Linked DNA regions of Homo sapiens. The protein of the gene in region 1 purifies or fractionates together with the protein of each later gene. This does not show direct contact. Each region holds a gene or a part of one and is shown on either strand. Other genes may lie near its edges. The genes, in order: ABCA5 and STXBP5.

What was found.
Region 2: the proteins of ABCA5 (region 1) and STXBP5 fractionate together in Homo sapiens (co-fractionation; one large-scale study listed by BioGRID). This does not show direct contact.

Annotation. Positions count from the first base shown.
Region 1 is NC_000017.11:69,243,775-69,247,430, reverse strand, and holds the end of ABCA5 (cholesterol transporter ABCA5), read left to right. Parts: 3' UTR 1-3,120; downstream 3,121-3,656. UniProt on the Homo sapiens protein: Cholesterol efflux transporter in macrophages that is responsible for APOAI/high-density lipoproteins (HDL) formation at the plasma membrane under high cholesterol levels and participates in reverse cholesterol transport.
Region 2 is NC_000006.12:147,207,322-147,211,154, forward strand, and holds part of STXBP5 (syntaxin-binding protein 5), read left to right. Parts: intron 1-3,833. UniProt on the Homo sapiens protein: Plays a regulatory role in calcium-dependent exocytosis and neurotransmitter release. Inhibits membrane fusion between transport vesicles and the plasma membrane.

The DNA.
Region 1 (3,656 bases):
CACTTGAAATTTTTCTAAGCTCCTTAATTGAAATGCTGTGGTTGTGTGTTTTGCTTTTCTTTAAATAAAACGTATGTATAATTAAGTGAAGCTGCATGTTTGTATTGAAGTATATTGAACTATATAGTTTGTATGTCATCTTTTTCACCATTCAGAAACAGTGCTTCTGAATTTGTGATTTAAAGGAATTGTAATAGAATAGTTTTATTTTTAAGTTATCTTTAAGTTTATGCCATCTTCTTAAATAAGTACGTAATGTTCCAATCTAAATAAAAAACTAATTCATAACTAATGCATAGAAAAGATACATAAAGCAATGTGAAAGTTTCTTGCTTCTCCTTTTTAATTTCTAAAAAAGCCACTTTGAATGGAAGTTGTCATCCGTAAAAGCTGAAGTGTAAGCACTAGGAAATCTCAATATAGAGATTTGAGGAAAGTTATATCCACTAGGTGGCAGTCATTGATCATAATAAGTGAAATGAGCCCTTGTTCTAGTACATGATTTTAGGCTTAGGTAATTAGGTATGTGAAATTACATTTCTTTAATTTAAAGTAAAATTCAGAAGGTTTTAGTTATTATAATTAAAGGAAGACTGTGTGTAGAATCTTACGTAATAGTCTGATTCTTTGACTCTGTGGCTAGAATGACAGTTATCTATGGAGGTGGTAGAATTAAGCCATACCTTTTCCTTCATCACTCTTGGAACATATAAATTTTTTGTCATCTTCCTTGCAAAGGGCACATTTAATTTTGTTCTTGAATAAAATATTTTATTGGGTATTTGTTTTTATTGGTAAACTTTAGTGAATCTCTTCTATAAAATTGTAAGTAGATCAGTGTGTAGATTTATTTAGTAACTTACCTCATTGACTTTGGAACATGGTAGGATATGAATAAACTCTTTCAAGGGTTAAATTAAGAATTGTAAGTGCAGTGCGCCTATTTCTTTTTAATAAGAACCAGAATTTCATTTTTGATAGAGTTAAAGGCATGGCTAATATTTTCTTAGAAATACTTCCTTGTACAACCCATGTATTGGCTCAAGGTATAAAATAGTGTAAATAATGCTAGTTGACATTACATTTCAACCAAATGAAAGTATTAACTTCATAAAACAAATATATTGAGAGTGTGATTATTGTATTAGACAACAACAACAGCAATGACAGAAGGATTTGGTACTGAATTACTTTAAATAAGCAAAACCTTTCAGTGGCATTATTCATTCTTTAATGTAGGCAAAATTTAATGAACTTTTAGCTTTATTGTGTAATAAGACATCTGTGATTTTAGGCTCTAGCAGTGGATTTAAAAGTGTTCTTTCTCGGTACAAAGTACGTGGCTGATATTTTCCCCCATTGCTGGGGGCAGTTGCTATACACTTTCCTAAAGTATATATAATGTTCACATAAATACCCAGGGACCTCTTTTTTGGGATGTGCTTTTGTAATTATGTGTAACCTTGAATACTTAAGTTTAGTAAAAGCAACAAAATTATATCTATAGTTTACTAAGGCAGTCACGAAAAAGCATAGTTTTTTTTAGAACCTGACCATCCTAAGAAAGTTATGTCATCTGAAGATAGAGCATGACTAATGAAGAAAATTACCTGCTTTTGCACGTAGATTTGGTAACTTTCACTTTACATTTGTGAATGTGTAATTGGTGCAAAGTAAATTTTTTTTCCTGCAAAGTGAAAGTTGAGTAGTCACAATCATGTTATTTATTTTGTTCATTTAGTTACTTTGCTTTTAATGTATATGAATACATGCTCTTGTAAACAATTTTAAAAGACATTCAAATTTTTTTTTAGTTTTTATATACTCAGAATATATTTTGGTTGTTAAATTAAATTATGTTCCCTTTTTCACAGTAACAAAATCTGACTCAGGAGAAATATAACTTAATTCTTAGGAAAACAAGGGTAAGTGAGCTGGAAAGCAAAGGAGGCAAAAAGTGAAATATATTTATTTACAGTGTACAGTTCATGTTTATGAACATACTAATTTTAAAATGTCTTAAATTACTGATCTCAAAACTTTTTTCTATGTCAGTACAGATAAATAAATAAATATACATATTAGGCAAAAGCAACATCACCAACCTTATATTTCCCATTCATGGTCAAATTTTCAAAGGAAAGTAAAAGCTGAGCTTTACTGAGTGAGTGTTTACTGACTAATAAGGCAAGAAAAAACATGATGAGTGTACTTTACATCTTACTTTTGTGGGCTCTTAATTTTTTTTTCTAGTTTGTTTTCAGTAAAGACAGTGGGTTTTCTTTAAAATAATTTTTTTCTTTTAAATTTGCACAAATTATCTTAGGTCAGTATTTTGGTTTTAATCATTAAAACATTTTTAGAGTAATGTAATTTAACAAATATTTTAAGTGATTATGTTTCCAGAAATGGATTCTTTGGAGAGAACTCGGATGACTATCAGTTTTGGCCCTGTAAGATCGTGGAGATCTGTAAGATAGATACTTATATAACTTACATAAAATATATATAATATATTACTTATATAACTTATATAACTAGCTATTATTTTATATAACTAACTATAATATGACAAATCCTTTGCTAGTAGTACTAACAACGTTTTATAGGAGCACAATTAATTTTACTTAGGATAAGTGTTGTTATTATTGTTTTTATTGTTGTTCTGTTAGTTACTCAAAACTTCATTCTAATTGTGCCCTGAGTTTGTTAAAATACCATACTGTATTTTTGTGTAACATGTAAATAGGCATTAATTTTTGAGAAATAGAAATGTTTATCCTTAATGTATTTTTAATTTGCTAACATTGATTTTTTATTTTCTTTCCTGAAATAGCTTATTTCCTAAAATGAAAGAATTTATTCTCAGATGAATAATTTTTATATCAGCTATTCTTATCAGGTAAAAGTTTAATTATTTTTTATTTATAATATATGTAAGCAATTCTCAATGCTGCTCTTTAAGAAAAATAAATATGATTATATTAATAATAAGCTTTAAGAGTTGAAAATTTAAGACAAGTCATTTTGTATACTGAAGTGAATTCTTTGTTATTTAGTGCTGATAATTGAATAATGAGTAGCTCATATTAAAAATGATGCAAAAACCTGGCACTAAAATTGTTAGTAATTTTTTTTAAGTATCTGAGGCTAGTTTTCAAGTGCAGAAGGAACATTGACAATTACTTTGTTTTAATTTACATTCAGATTTTAAACATAAACTAGGTATGTTTATAGATCTTTTTGTCTTGAATGTATTTTTTTGTAAATAGAAAGCAATCACTTTAACTTACACATTATCACATATAACAGGTTCAGTTACTCTCAGATATTTAACACTACTTACATATTTATCACTTTCCTTAGAATTTTTGAATGAATTGATTCATACAAACACTTAGGCAATATTTTAAACTTAATGAACAGATTCTTCCCAAGTGCCTAAACAACTCTTGCAAATTAAATTACCGTTTTAAATTAAAAAATCAAGTTCTCAAGAATTTCAAGCATCATTTGGTGTTTCTTTCGTTTTTGAGATAGGGTCTCACTTTGCTGCCTAGGCTGGAGTACAGTGGCACAATCCCGGCTCACTGCAGCCTCAAGCTCCCAGGCTCAGGTGATCCTCCCACCTCAGCCTCCTGAGTAGCTGGTACTAC
Region 2 (3,833 bases), on another chromosome or scaffold:
AACTGTGTTACTAAGTGAAGTCTACTATACATAGTAAATACTACGCAGTCATACCTTTATAAACGACAAAATCTGACCAGGCTAGATCTGAATCTGTTAATTTCTGAGACGGTGTGTCTGAAGTGCTCTTGCCCAAATATCTAGATAGTTATGACCAGAATGTTTTTTGGCTTCAATTGTTAGATATTTTTATTCCTGAACTCAGTGATCAAGACCATCTAGTTTAGGGTTGTGTGAAGACGGGAATGAAGTTATTTTGTCAGTGTGGGCCCTGAGTGTTCAGCAAAACTCTGTAGTGACGAGACTAGTACAGCGTTGGATCTAGATGCATTCTTTGGAACTGAAAGCAGTTTCTTTTTTTTCCCAACAAGATAATTTCATAACTGGACTAGAAGAAGGAAAGTAAAGTTGAATTAAATCAGCTATTTTTCCCTTATTTTGCTTTTCTGTAAAATGAGTTTAGGTTTTATTGTTTTCCCAGTGTGGTCTCGACATTCTTTTGGTAAATAACCTCTTTTCCTTGTAACATCCAATCTGGCCCTTTTATAATTTAGTATAATTATAAGTGAGTACCACCAGCAAGGCTGATTTTATAAAACCAGATTCTTAGACAACACTTTTACCCTAATGCATTTGTGTAATTAGCAAGTTGGCACAAAAGGTGTAAAGCGTTAGGCCTAGTGTGAATTGCCAATTAAAATCAAGGATCAGGTGGCCAAAATTGTCACTTGTATATAACTTTTGGTGTACTTTCTATAGTTAAATATTATGTGAATAAAAGTGAACCTGTAATTATAGTTTGCAATTATACTCTAAAGTTTTTTTTTAGAACCTCCTTACTAAGAATGAAGTATGGAAAACTGTTTACTAAATTACCTTCTACTTTGCCTTTTTATGAGATTTCTATGGACATTCCAGAGTGCTAAATTGGCTTGCTTGCCAGTAATACCACCTAGTCATTCCTTCTGTTGGGTTTAAGTAGCAGATGAGCTTATGAGCTTTATTTATTATGGTTCTGATTTATAGAAAATGACTAAGCCCTTTTTATTTTATCTCATTTTCCATATATGTGCTTTCAGGTATATGTTAGTGTCTCTTTCTTTGTTATTTTTGAAACTGGACACCTAAATTCCGAATCTCCACATTTGGTTAACGTGCAGATTTACTACAAGTGTGTATATTTTGACTTGGATCTTTTGTATATTTTCCTATTGTAATTGGTTTCTTTTGATCCTTTATTCTCTTCTTGTATTAGACTCTTGTAGTCTGTAACACAGTTATCCTAAAAGATATCATTAGAGCAGAAAATAGACTTCTAGATAAAGTATTTTCCTTGCAGATTGAAAAGTAGGCGATGTTTTCAGAAGTAAGATTAGGCTATTACAATTCCAAATGTGTATGTAATTTGACTGATGAATATCTTCCTAAATGTTAGAAGACTTTACTAAATTGATTTATCTACTCTGGGTTAAAACCAAAAAATCAAAGAAGAAAGATATATCTGATAGCTAATGTTTGTAGACAAGGATTAGTGAAAAATCTTAATCCTTTAATAATACATAACAAATTATGAGGCAAAATAAATTAAATGTATTTACTACATTAATGTATAGCAAATGACATATGATATAAATATGCTGAATGCTAAACCTTCTTGGCTTCTGGAGAGAATATGAGATTGAAGAATGAAGGTATTTTTAATAATGTTACTGTCTTTATCTAGACTTCTGATTTACTACTAAAATTTCAAATTGCTTCATACTTTAATCATGGGTTACCCTGATCTTATTTTTAAAGTAAATTTTTTTTCTAAACACAATGAGGTCATTATATATATGAATATTTCAAGGACTGAGCAGAAAAATGGAATTTCAGGTTTACTGAACTTGTGTAAAAATTTGAGGTTTAAAAATGAATTGTCAAATTATTATCGAAGAACCTCATTCATTGTCTTCTTGACTGGTGGAAAATACAGTGAAATAGACAATCTCTGTTTTGATGAGGCATGGATTGTCTTTTAATGCAGAGTAATGTTGCTGGAGACAGGCTTACAAAGTGATTTTTTTACCTTACAGTTGATTTAACAAGCACTTGAGTGTCAGACAACATTAGATTATAAATTGTGGCCTGAATTCTGGTTCTTCGCTTTCCACTAAATAATTACATGTCCTTGAATTAGTTTTTTTTTTCCTTACTATAAAAATGAAGGTGCAGTATTAAATGATTTCTTCAAGGAAGAATTTTATGATTTCAAGTAGCTATGTATTCTAGAGGAGTAATACAAAAGAAATGAAAATGTGATCCTTCCTTCAAAAAGTTTCCAGTTCTAACCAAAGGACTGGAACTAAATAAGCAGTTGAAATTTGAGAATTATTTGGGGCTCTACTGACATTACACAAAGTCAGGTTACATGTAAATTTGTTGCATTTGATGAACATTTCTATACATTGGTAGATAAGTATTCAGAATGACAGGGAGGAAGGAGTGGGAAAATTATTCTAGGCAAGGAAAACAGTATGGGCAAAAGCATGGAAAAGGGAATTATGCGAGTTTGGAGGAATACTAATGAGGCTAGTTGGAATAATTGAGTTAGCAGGAGAAATAAGGAGGCTGTTGAGGGTCTGCAATTTTAACCTGAGGTATCTGCATGATATTCAGTTAGGAATCATAGTTATGTAATAGGAGATGCTGACAGGAAGAAAGCATGATTTTTTAGCATGATTAGTGGAGTAGTGGTATAGGTGAAAAGAATGGACCAAGTGAACTTCACAGAAAATTATTAATCCATATAGGTAGTAAAGTGAATCCAAAACAGGGGTGGCAGAATGGGAATTGGAGAAGGGCTTGACTTGTTTGTATAAAATCTTAGGGAGTAACTAAAGATGATAAGGTTTTGCAAGTAAAGTAATGAGGCAATTACAAGCGAAGTGAAAAACTTGGCAAAGAAGTGGCAGAGAAATGTTGAGTTTGAAATTATGTTATCTTTAACTTTTATTGTATTATCATTTTGGGAGAGTAGCCTAGACTTCTTATTTTAGTGTGAGAATTTGATATACTTTCACTGTTTTGTTTTGGTTTTTTTTGGCTGGTCCTTGGTGATTTCCAGAATTTTGTTACTGAATTTATATTTAAGGTCATTAGTAGCTGTTTGGCATTGTCCATTTATTTTCTGTCAGTGTTTCTCAAAGTGGTAGCTTTTTGGGCAGAATAATTCTGTGGGTTTGTCCAGCACATTGCAGGATATTTAATATCCCCGTCTCCCACCTACTAAATGCCCATGTTGCCTCCCCTGTCAGTGTGGCAACCCAGACCCTCCAACACACTTCCAGGTGCCCCTGGTTGAGAACCACTGCATTTAGCCCAAGTTCTTCACCAGTTAAATAAGAATAATAACCCTACCTAGCTTGTGAGGTTATTGTCACGATTAAATCTAATAAAATGTGTGTGTGTAGCTTTTACGATCATGAAGGGATATTGTGGTGGATACATGATTATTACATTATTATTATAATACATGATTATTATTAATATGAGAGTTTTTCTGTGGCTTTAATTTTCAGGTCCTTCATTTCTCTCAGCGAATACTGAGTGGCAACTGTGTAGGAAGGACTTCATTTCATTTATTTTTGTAGCTAATACAAACTTTGAGGAAAAGATACTGAAAAGCACTGTTCTTTTCTTTGAGTTTGTTTTTAAAATGGTTGTGTTCAGCCTGGCACAGAGGCTCACGCCTGTAATCCCAGCACTTTGGGAGGCCAAGGCAGGCGGTCATGAGGTCAGGAGTTTGAGAACAGCCTGACCAACGTGGTGGAACCCCATCTCTACTAAAAACA